Linked DNA regions of Homo sapiens: region 1 is linked to region 2. The links come from fine-mapping of genetic effects on gene expression. Tissue or cell type: prefrontal cortex. Region 2 holds a variant in brackets; the other region holds the start of a gene. All regions are shown on one strand. Distances are between the middles of the regions.

Region 1 (4,397 bases), 38 kb before region 2:
TCTCTCATCCCACACCACCTCAGTCACACTGGCCTCTGTCGTTTCTCAGATATGTGAAGCACACACCAATCTCAGGACTTTACGCCTGCTGTCCCTAGAACATCCTTCTACCATTTATCCACATGACTTGCTACCTCACTTCTTTCAGGTTTCTGCCCAGAAATCTTTCTATTAATGGGGAATTCCCTGATCTCCCTACCTCTTTTACTTTGATTTTTACCCCCACCCTAATACACACAAAATTCCTCTCTCTTCGTAGCACAATTGCTCACTGATACATTATTTATTTGTTTGTCTGTCTTCTGCATTAGTCTATAAACTTGAGAAGCTATTTTATTCACTGCTGTATCCTTAGTGTCTAAAACAGCCTCTAGCATGAAGTGTGTATTCAGTAAATATTTCCTAGATGAATTAATGGTGAATGCATTAGAATTGTAGGAAGAGTGGTTCTCCAGACATCACTGTACAGTGGTTTGAAAGCTTTAAAGGAAAAAGGAGGAGAAACAAATGGGGTTGGGGGATTTTTCTTTAAATAAAATCTTACTGCGCTCTCCTAACAGATAGTTAGAGGTGGACACCAAGAAGACAGTACTGGAATTGGAGGTGCTCTGAAATGCCATCTGCTTCATCTCTGAATGCAAGTTCTTGAAGAATGTTTTAAAAGATGGACTACCAAGGGGTAGGAAATTTATCTAACTCACCTAAGCCATAGGAAGTTAACTAATTGTTGAGAAACATTAAACAACTTCTCCTTCCCATAAAAAGTTGAAAATTGGAAAACCGGAGTCAATAGCATTTGGACTAAGTCGGATTGGAGATTGCAATGACTGGGAAGGAGATGTGCAGAAAGGCCTCTTCTAATTCATCTGACCTCTTACCTTGAAAAGCTGTCCTCATAATCAGAAGCCACTCCTTCCTTATCCTTGGCTCACTTTATTATTTCAATCGAAGGACAATGCACAAAGGAAGAAGAGCATTTGTATTCCCTATGACCTCTAAAAATGTTTGTGGTAGAAATGACAGGTGCTGAAATACATTTCATCTTTAGAAGTTCGAATTTCCATATCCAGTACAGTGGCAAGAATAAGTGTGAATATTACTTTTTTTTTTTTTTGAGAGGAAGTCTCACTCTGTCACCCAGGTTGGAGTGCAGTGGTGTGATCTCAACTCACTGTAACCTCTGACTCCCAGGTTCAAGTGATTCTCTTGCCTCAGCCTCCTGAGTAGCTGAGATCACAGGTGCCCGCCACCACATCCAGCTAATTTTTGTATTTTTAGTAGAGACGGGGGTTTCACCATGTTGGCCAGGCTGGTCTTGAACTCCTGACCTCAGGTGGTCCACCCACCTCGGCCTCCCAAAGTGCTGGGATTACAAGAATGAGCCGCCGTGCCTGGCCAAACTTTACTTTCCGCGGTATTGTGAGGAAGGCAAAAGGTTTGAGGTGAGAAGAGATACACGAGGGAGAAAGTATTACCCAGTTTTCTTACTTGTTATTTACTCATTCCTTTTCCCTCTCAAGCAGTATACACAACACACACATGTGCACGCGCACACACACACACAGTCTGTGGGGAAAAAAATATCTCAATCTCCTCCTTATGAAGGAAGTAGGATGTTACAGAGATATTATGATGCAATGAGGACCCTATGAAGGACACTGATGACATTGTGAGGTCAGGATTTTTACTGAAATGTTTGTCTGTATGAAATGCATCAGACCTAAATCAGCTTTCCTCCCTGCTAACATCCTAGTGGCAACTCTTACTCCTACCCGCACTATGGGATTTTAAGATCAAAGGAATTAGACCTAGGGCAAAAACTGAGACAGCAGGGAGGCACTGTAACAACTGGAAAGTTTTCCAAATTGGTAAACTTGCAGTATTCTTTCTGTACAGAAGTAAAAGATCCCCTATGTCCCTATGGATATCAGGAAGGAAAAGCGTCTCAACATGGCACTTCAGATGAGCAATTTCAAAAAGGCTTTGAACAGGTTTGAAAAATTGGTTGAACAAACAGCAGCCCAGAAAAGAGATGAAAGAGCAGGCTTATTTATCCATAAAGAAGGTAAGATCAGTGATTACACGATAGTCCAATTGGGTCTGTTGGTTAGAACTGGAAAATGTTTTAAGCCATCAGAGAGAAGCATCAGAGCTTAATGTGAAAGAATGGGTGCTGAAAGGGGATGAAGACCTCAGTTCTTGTTCTTTCTCTGTCCCTAAATAACAAAGCGGACATGAGGAAGCTTTTGTTTTGTTTTGTTTTTGTTTTTGTTTTTTTTTTTTACTTCTCTGAACCGAAGTTGCTTCAATTGTAAAACTATGGGATTGGATTAAATGACGTCCAGTGTTCTTCTGTAGACGCTGCCATTTGATGGCTCACTGGTTGACCTGGGATGCTCAGTAATGTATAGCACTGCTTTTTCTTAGCCTAAAGATATCATGAGACCATAAAGACTTTCATAAGAAGTGCAGCTTCCTGCCTCACCATGATTCCATTGTCTTGGCCACTCTCCATATCTCTAGGCAGGAATGATCTTGAGGATGCAAGCTAAGGAGAATATGGTGGACAGTGGTCTTACAGGAGGATTTGCAGCAGAGATGCCAGTGCATAGACAAGATTCAAGGGGAGTGGTGTAGTGTACAGCTTTGGCGTATTGAGGACAGCTGTGAAAAATAAAGCTACATGGCAGAGTGAAAGACTAACAGAACAAACCCTGCTGTTGCAATGAAAGGAGCAGAGCCCATATAATTGCTAAAGGGATAGTATAGCCAGCCTCTGAGTGTGCCAGGCTGCATAGTAATTTGTAAGTGAAAATCTTGACTTTGGGTGTTCAAACCCAAGCTGGTATTAATTGAATAGTATTTAATAATTTATAGTCATGTTAATCAATGTCATTATGTTCATTTTATTTGTGGAAAAAATGGGAGCTGAAGATAAATCATTTGCCCAAGTTACCCAAATTCTTTTCTTTTCTTTTCTTTTTTTTTTTTTTTCTGAGACGGAGTTTCATTCCTATTGCCCAGGCTGGAGTGAAATGGTGCGATCTCGGCTCTCTGCAACCTCTGCCTCCCAGGTTCAAGTGATTCTCCTGCCTCAGCCTCCCAAGTAGCTGGGATTACAGGCACCCACCACCACACCCGGCTAATTTTTTGTATTTTTAGTAGAGACGGGGTTTCACCATGTTGGCCAGGCTGGTCTTGAACTCTTGACCTCAGGTGATCCACCTGCCATGGCCTCCCAAAGTGCTGGGATTACAGGTGTGAGCCACCGTGCCCGGCCAAAGTCACCCAACTTCTAAGTGTTAAAGCTAAGACTTGGACCTTTTGGATATGCTTTTTCGGTGATTGGGAACTTGACTGGGCCTTCTAAACTACTCAACAAAACTTGCATTTTTTCCTAGTCAGTTTGTTTTACCTCTCTCTAATTGGTTTTTCAAACCCTTGACACTTTTTCTGAATTCTCTATGGGATGTCTGCTTCTCTCAGCCAAGTTTTCTACGTCATAAAAGAAAGCAAGGTCAAAAGACAAGAATTCTCTCAAACCCCCCTTTTCCACTTCTGAATCACTGAAAGCAGCAGCTGTCCTTTCTATTTCTCCTCCCCTTCAAAGCTATCAGTTTGCTGCAGCAGCTTCAAAATCTCCTTTTCTACTGGATTTGTCCTCTCAGTCTAAAAATATACTCAAGCATCATGACCTTGACTTTCTCTTTTCTTTAAGCTACCACTGTATGCCTCTCCTTTCCTTCTCCACTGAATTTCCTGACAATATCACCACTTAACTTTCAATCTACTCAGGTCTGGCTTCTCTGATCACTTTGCTGAAAATGCTCTAACCAAGCTATGTGATAAGCTAATATAGTTGCCAAATTCAATAAATTGTTTTCATTTTCCAGCCTACTTGGCCATTGCACTAGATTAACACTGTTAGCTGCCTCTGCTTCAAGAAACTTCCTTATCCTGCGTCTTTCATCACATCATTCTTATTTTTCCCATCTCAATTCTTTCTTTGCTTCTTTTTCTCCTTGAGCTTTGCCTACTGTGTTCTCTCTCAGTCTTAGAGCATAGCTACCATCTAACTAGTTTCCTAAGCCAGATATCTTGGTATAGGCTGTATAGGCTGAGCATCCCTGATCCCAAAATCCAAAATCTAAAATGCTCCAAAATTCAAAACTTTTTGAGAGCTGACATGAGATAGGGGCATATTAATATTTGCTTTCTGATGATTCAATGCATACAAACTTTGTTTCATGCACAGAATTATTAAAACTATTGTATAAAATTACCTCCAGGCTATATGTATAAGGGGTGTATATTAAGTGTAAATAAATTTTGTGTTTAAACTTGTGTCCTATTCCCAAGATATCTCACTATGTACAGTATATGTAAATATCCCAAAA
Region 2 (4,397 bases):
GTTGTACGCTTACAATGAGTGAATTTTATGATATGCAAATGTTATGATACCTATTGGGGTATTACATACCCTAATAAAGATGTCTCAGAAAAGCTCATCGAGACTCCTGGCTGCCTTCCAGTCTGGCATGTAAAGAGCTTGGAAGTTGCCATTCCATCCTAACAAGTAAAAATGTAACAAACTAAAAAATAAATAATTTTTCTTAGATCCATCAGAGAAGTAAGGTCACAAGGCAGTTTTGTTGCCCCCACATTGGAGAGACAGAGGGGCAAACACTGGGAATCACAACTTACTGGAGCAGAAATTCATGGGCAGGAACCCCCTGAATAACCAGTATAGGGCAGGAAAACCTAAATTGTAATGGACAAGTGCTCAGCATGGACAATTTTAGAGTTAAAAATTCCAGGGGTGCCCAGTCATAGGGGCCCCTATGCTTTTGTGAGTTTTACTTCCAGGAGTTCAACAGATTCTTAAAGTGAGTATCAGTGAAAAATTCTCTCTTACTTCTGGCGGAGGGGAAGGAAAAGGCACCATTTTGAAACGTGCCAGAACATGTTGTTCTTTCCAAGGTATGCCCTCAAGAGAAACTATGTTATCAGAGTCTAAGCTATTGGAACTTTGTCAGGGAATAACTCACAGAGGGAAGGAAAACATCCACTCTAACCTCTGGTCGCACCTAAGAGGGAGGGTGAGGAAGACTGACAAGCACTTGTGAAATTCGCAATCCAGACACACAGGCTCATCAAAAGAAGGAGACTTACTCACAGGATTCACCTTCCCCCACAGCTTACTGACATGTTACTAATGGCCTATTTATAGCAGTTCCCTTTACCCAGTAAATCATGTCCAGCTATCAAGAAAAAAATTACAAGGCATACTAAAAGGCACAAAACAGATTGTCAGAGTGATCAAAAAAACAAGACCCAACTATATGCTGTCTATGAGAAACACACTTTAAATATAAAGACACATATAGGCTAAAAATAAAAAGATGCAGAAAGATATACTATGCTAAAACTTATCAAAAGAAAGCAGAAGAAGCTATGCTAGTTTTATATAGAACAGATATCAGTGCAAGGAAAATTGTCAGGGATAAAGAAGGGCATTACATAATGATAAAGGGGTCAATTCTTAAAGATGCTCTGACAATCCTTAATGCAGATGCACCTAACAACAGAGCATCAAAATTAATGAGGCAAAAACTACAACTCCAAGAGACAGAACAAGCATCAGAATCAGATGCAGACATGGCAAGGAGGTTGGAATTATCAGAATGGGAATGTAAGACAACTACAATTAACAGGCTAAGGGCTCGGATAAAGCAGGCAGCAGACAAGAACAGACGGGCATTGTAAACAGAGAGATGAAAATTCTAAGAATAAAAAGTTCTAAAGATCAAAAACACTGATAGAAATGAGTAACGCCTTTGATGGGCTCATTAGTATACCGGACGTAGCTGAGGAAAGAATTTATAGAAGATTCAAAAACAGAAAGCAAAGAGGAAAAAAACTGAAAAAACAAAACAAAACAAAAAAAACCATAGGATATCCAAAAACTGTGGGCAACTGTGAAAAGTGTAACATATGTGTGATGAGAACACCAGAAGAAGAAAGGGAGAAAGGAAGAAAAGGTACATTTGAAGTAATGACTAAGAATGTCCACAAATTAAAATGAGACACCAAACCCCAGATCCAGTAATATCAGAAAGCACCAAGAAGGATAAATGCCAAAAAATAACTATACCTAGGCATATCATGTTCAAACAGCAGAAAAGTAAACATAAAGAAAAAAACTGGCTGGGCGCAGTGGCTCACACCTGTAATCCCAGGACTTTGGGAGGCCAAGGTGGGTGCATCACAAGGTCAGGAGTTAGAGATCAGCCTGACCAACATGGTAAAACCCCGTCTCTACTAAAAATACAAAAATTAGCTGGGCATG[G/T]TGGCGCACACCTGTAATCCCAGCTACTCAGGAGGCTGAGGCAGGAGAATTGCTTAAACCTGGGAGGCGGAGGTTGTAGTGAGCCGAGATCACACCACTGCACTCCACCCTGGGCGACAGAGGGAGACTCTGTCAAAAAAAAAACAAAAACTTGAAATGAGCCAGAGGGGAAAAAAACAACTTATCTGTAGAAAAGCAAAGACAAGAATTACTTGTGATTTTTCCTCAGAAATCATAAGCAAGAACAGTTGAGTGAAATATTTAAAGTGTTAGAAGACCTACCAGCCTAGAATTCTGTATACCGTGAAATTAGCCTTTAAAAGTGAAGGAGAAATAAAACTTTCTCGGACAAACAGAAATTGAGGAAATATGCTATCAGTATACCTGCTTTTCAAGAAAGGGTAAAAGAAGTTCTTCAGAGAGAAAGAAAAGCCGTAAGTCAGAAACTTGCATCTATATAAAGAAAAGAACAGCATCAGAGGAAGAAAAAGTAAAGGTAAAATAAAAATTGTTATTTTTGTTATTCTTAACTTTTCTAACAGATAATTTGTTCAAATAATAATGACAGCAATGTATTCAATTATATACACAATATATACACATATAAACATATATGTATGTATATATGGTATATTTGCTATGTGTAAGCAAAATAAATGACAGCAATAATACAAATAATGGAAGGAATTAGGATTTTTGTTTATTTTAATATACTTGTACTGCCTGTGTAGTACAGTGTTACTTGAAAGTGGACTTGGATTAGTTGTAAATGTATATTGCAAATGATAGGTCAACCACGAAAAATTGTTTTTTAAAAAATGTGTAACTTATATTCTAAGAAAATAGAGAAAATGAAATCATGTAAAGTGTTTATTTTAAAACACAAAAGGCAGAAAAAGAGTAAAAGACAAAAATAGAAACAAAGAAAAGCAGCAATTAATAGAAAACAATAACAAATATAGTAGATATTAATCCAACTATGTCAATAATTACTTTAAAAGTCAATGGTCTAAATACAGTAGTTAAGAGACAGAGATTGTCAGAGTGATCACAAAACAAGACCTAACTCTATGTTGTCTATAAGAAACCCACTTTAAATATAATGGCACATATAGATTAAAAGTACAGGGATAGGGTAAGATATACCATGCTAACACTTATCAAAAGAAAACAGGAGTTACTATAAAAACACTTAGCAAAGTAGGAATAGAGGGAACATCATCAACTTGTAAAAAACATCTACAAAAAACCTCCAGTTAACATCATCTATAGTACTGGACAGTTTTCCCACTAAGATCAGGTATAGCATGTTTGCACAATACAAGGTTATTATATACAAGTCAATAACTTTCCTATATCCTAACAATTAACAAGTGGCATTTTAAATTAAAAACATAGGCTGGGCACAGTGGCTCATGCCTGTAATCCCAGCACTTTGGGGGGCCAAGGCGGGCAGATCACCTGTGCTCAGGAGTTCAAGACCAGCCTGGCCAACATGGTGAAACCCTGTCTCTACAAAAATACAGAAATTAGCCAGGCATGATGGTGGGTGCCTATAATCTCAGCTACTTGGGAGACTGAGGTGGGAGAATTGCTTGAACCCAGGAGGCAGAGGTTGCCGTAAGCCGAGATTGTGCCATTGCATTCCAGCCTGGGCAACAGAGCAAGACTCCATCTCAAAAAAATAAAAAAATAAAAAAAAAAAAAAGAAACACAATGCCATCTACATTCGCATTTGAGAATGAAATACTTAGGTATAAGTCTAACAAAATATGCAAGATCCAAATGAGGACAACCACAAAACTCCAATTAAAGAAATCAAGGAATTAAATGAAGAGATATTCCACGTTCATGAATAGAAGACTCACTATTGTCAAGATACCAGTTTTTCCCAACTTGATATGTAGAGTCAATGCGATCTCACCCAAAATTCAGGAAGTTATTTTGTGAATCTTGACAAGTTCATTTTAACATTTATATGGAAAAGCAAAAGGTCTTGAGTATTCATCACAATAATGAAGAGGAAGAAACAAATCATAGGACTGACAAGTCAAGACATAAAGCTATAGTAATAAAGATAGTGCGGTATTGTAAAACAATGGAAAAAATAGATCAACAAAGCAGAAATAGACCCACATAAATATAGTCAACAGATCTTTGACAAAGGAGCAAAGGGAATACAATGGAGCAAGATATTCTTTTTAACAAATGGTTCTAGAACAAAGAAATAATTGATGAGCTGTACTTCATTAAAATTGAAACCTTCTGCTCTGCAAAAGACTCTGCCAAGAGAATGAGAAGACAAGACACAGACTGGAAGGAAGTATTTGCAAAAGACATATCTGATAAAGGACTGTTATCCAAAATATACAAAAAATTATTTCAACTTTATAATAAGTAAACCAACAACCCAATTGAAAAATAAACAAAAGATCTGAATAAATACTAAGATACACAGA

Direction of the effects. Positions count from the first base shown, and alleles are read on the strand shown. Sizes are in standard deviations (SD) of each study's normalised expression.
With allele T in place of G in region 2, the expression in prefrontal cortex of the gene that starts at base 1,717 in region 1 is higher (large effect, 0.77 SD a copy in GTEx).

Evidence for each region.
Region 1: WDR64 starts here. The variant in region 2 is fine-mapped to the expression of WDR64 in prefrontal cortex (GTEx, PIP above 0.99). The same link has a PIP of 0.9 or more in cerebral cortex.

What each region holds. Positions count from the first base shown.
Region 1 is chr1:241,650,565-241,654,961 of GRCh38, forward strand. WDR64 (WD repeat domain 64) reads left to right here and starts at 1,717. Exons shown (of 28, transcript NM_001367482.1): 1 at 1,717-2,065. The coding sequence starts at 1,921.
Region 2 is chr1:241,688,397-241,692,793 of GRCh38, forward strand. All of the region lies in intron 8 of WDR64 (WD repeat domain 64), which reads left to right. All of the region lies in intron 1 of LOC124904603 (a long non-coding RNA gene), which reads right to left. Among named protein-coding and RNA genes, the nearest start is that of WDR64, 38 kb to the left of the region's middle. The variant G/T (reference allele first, on the strand shown) is at 1,939.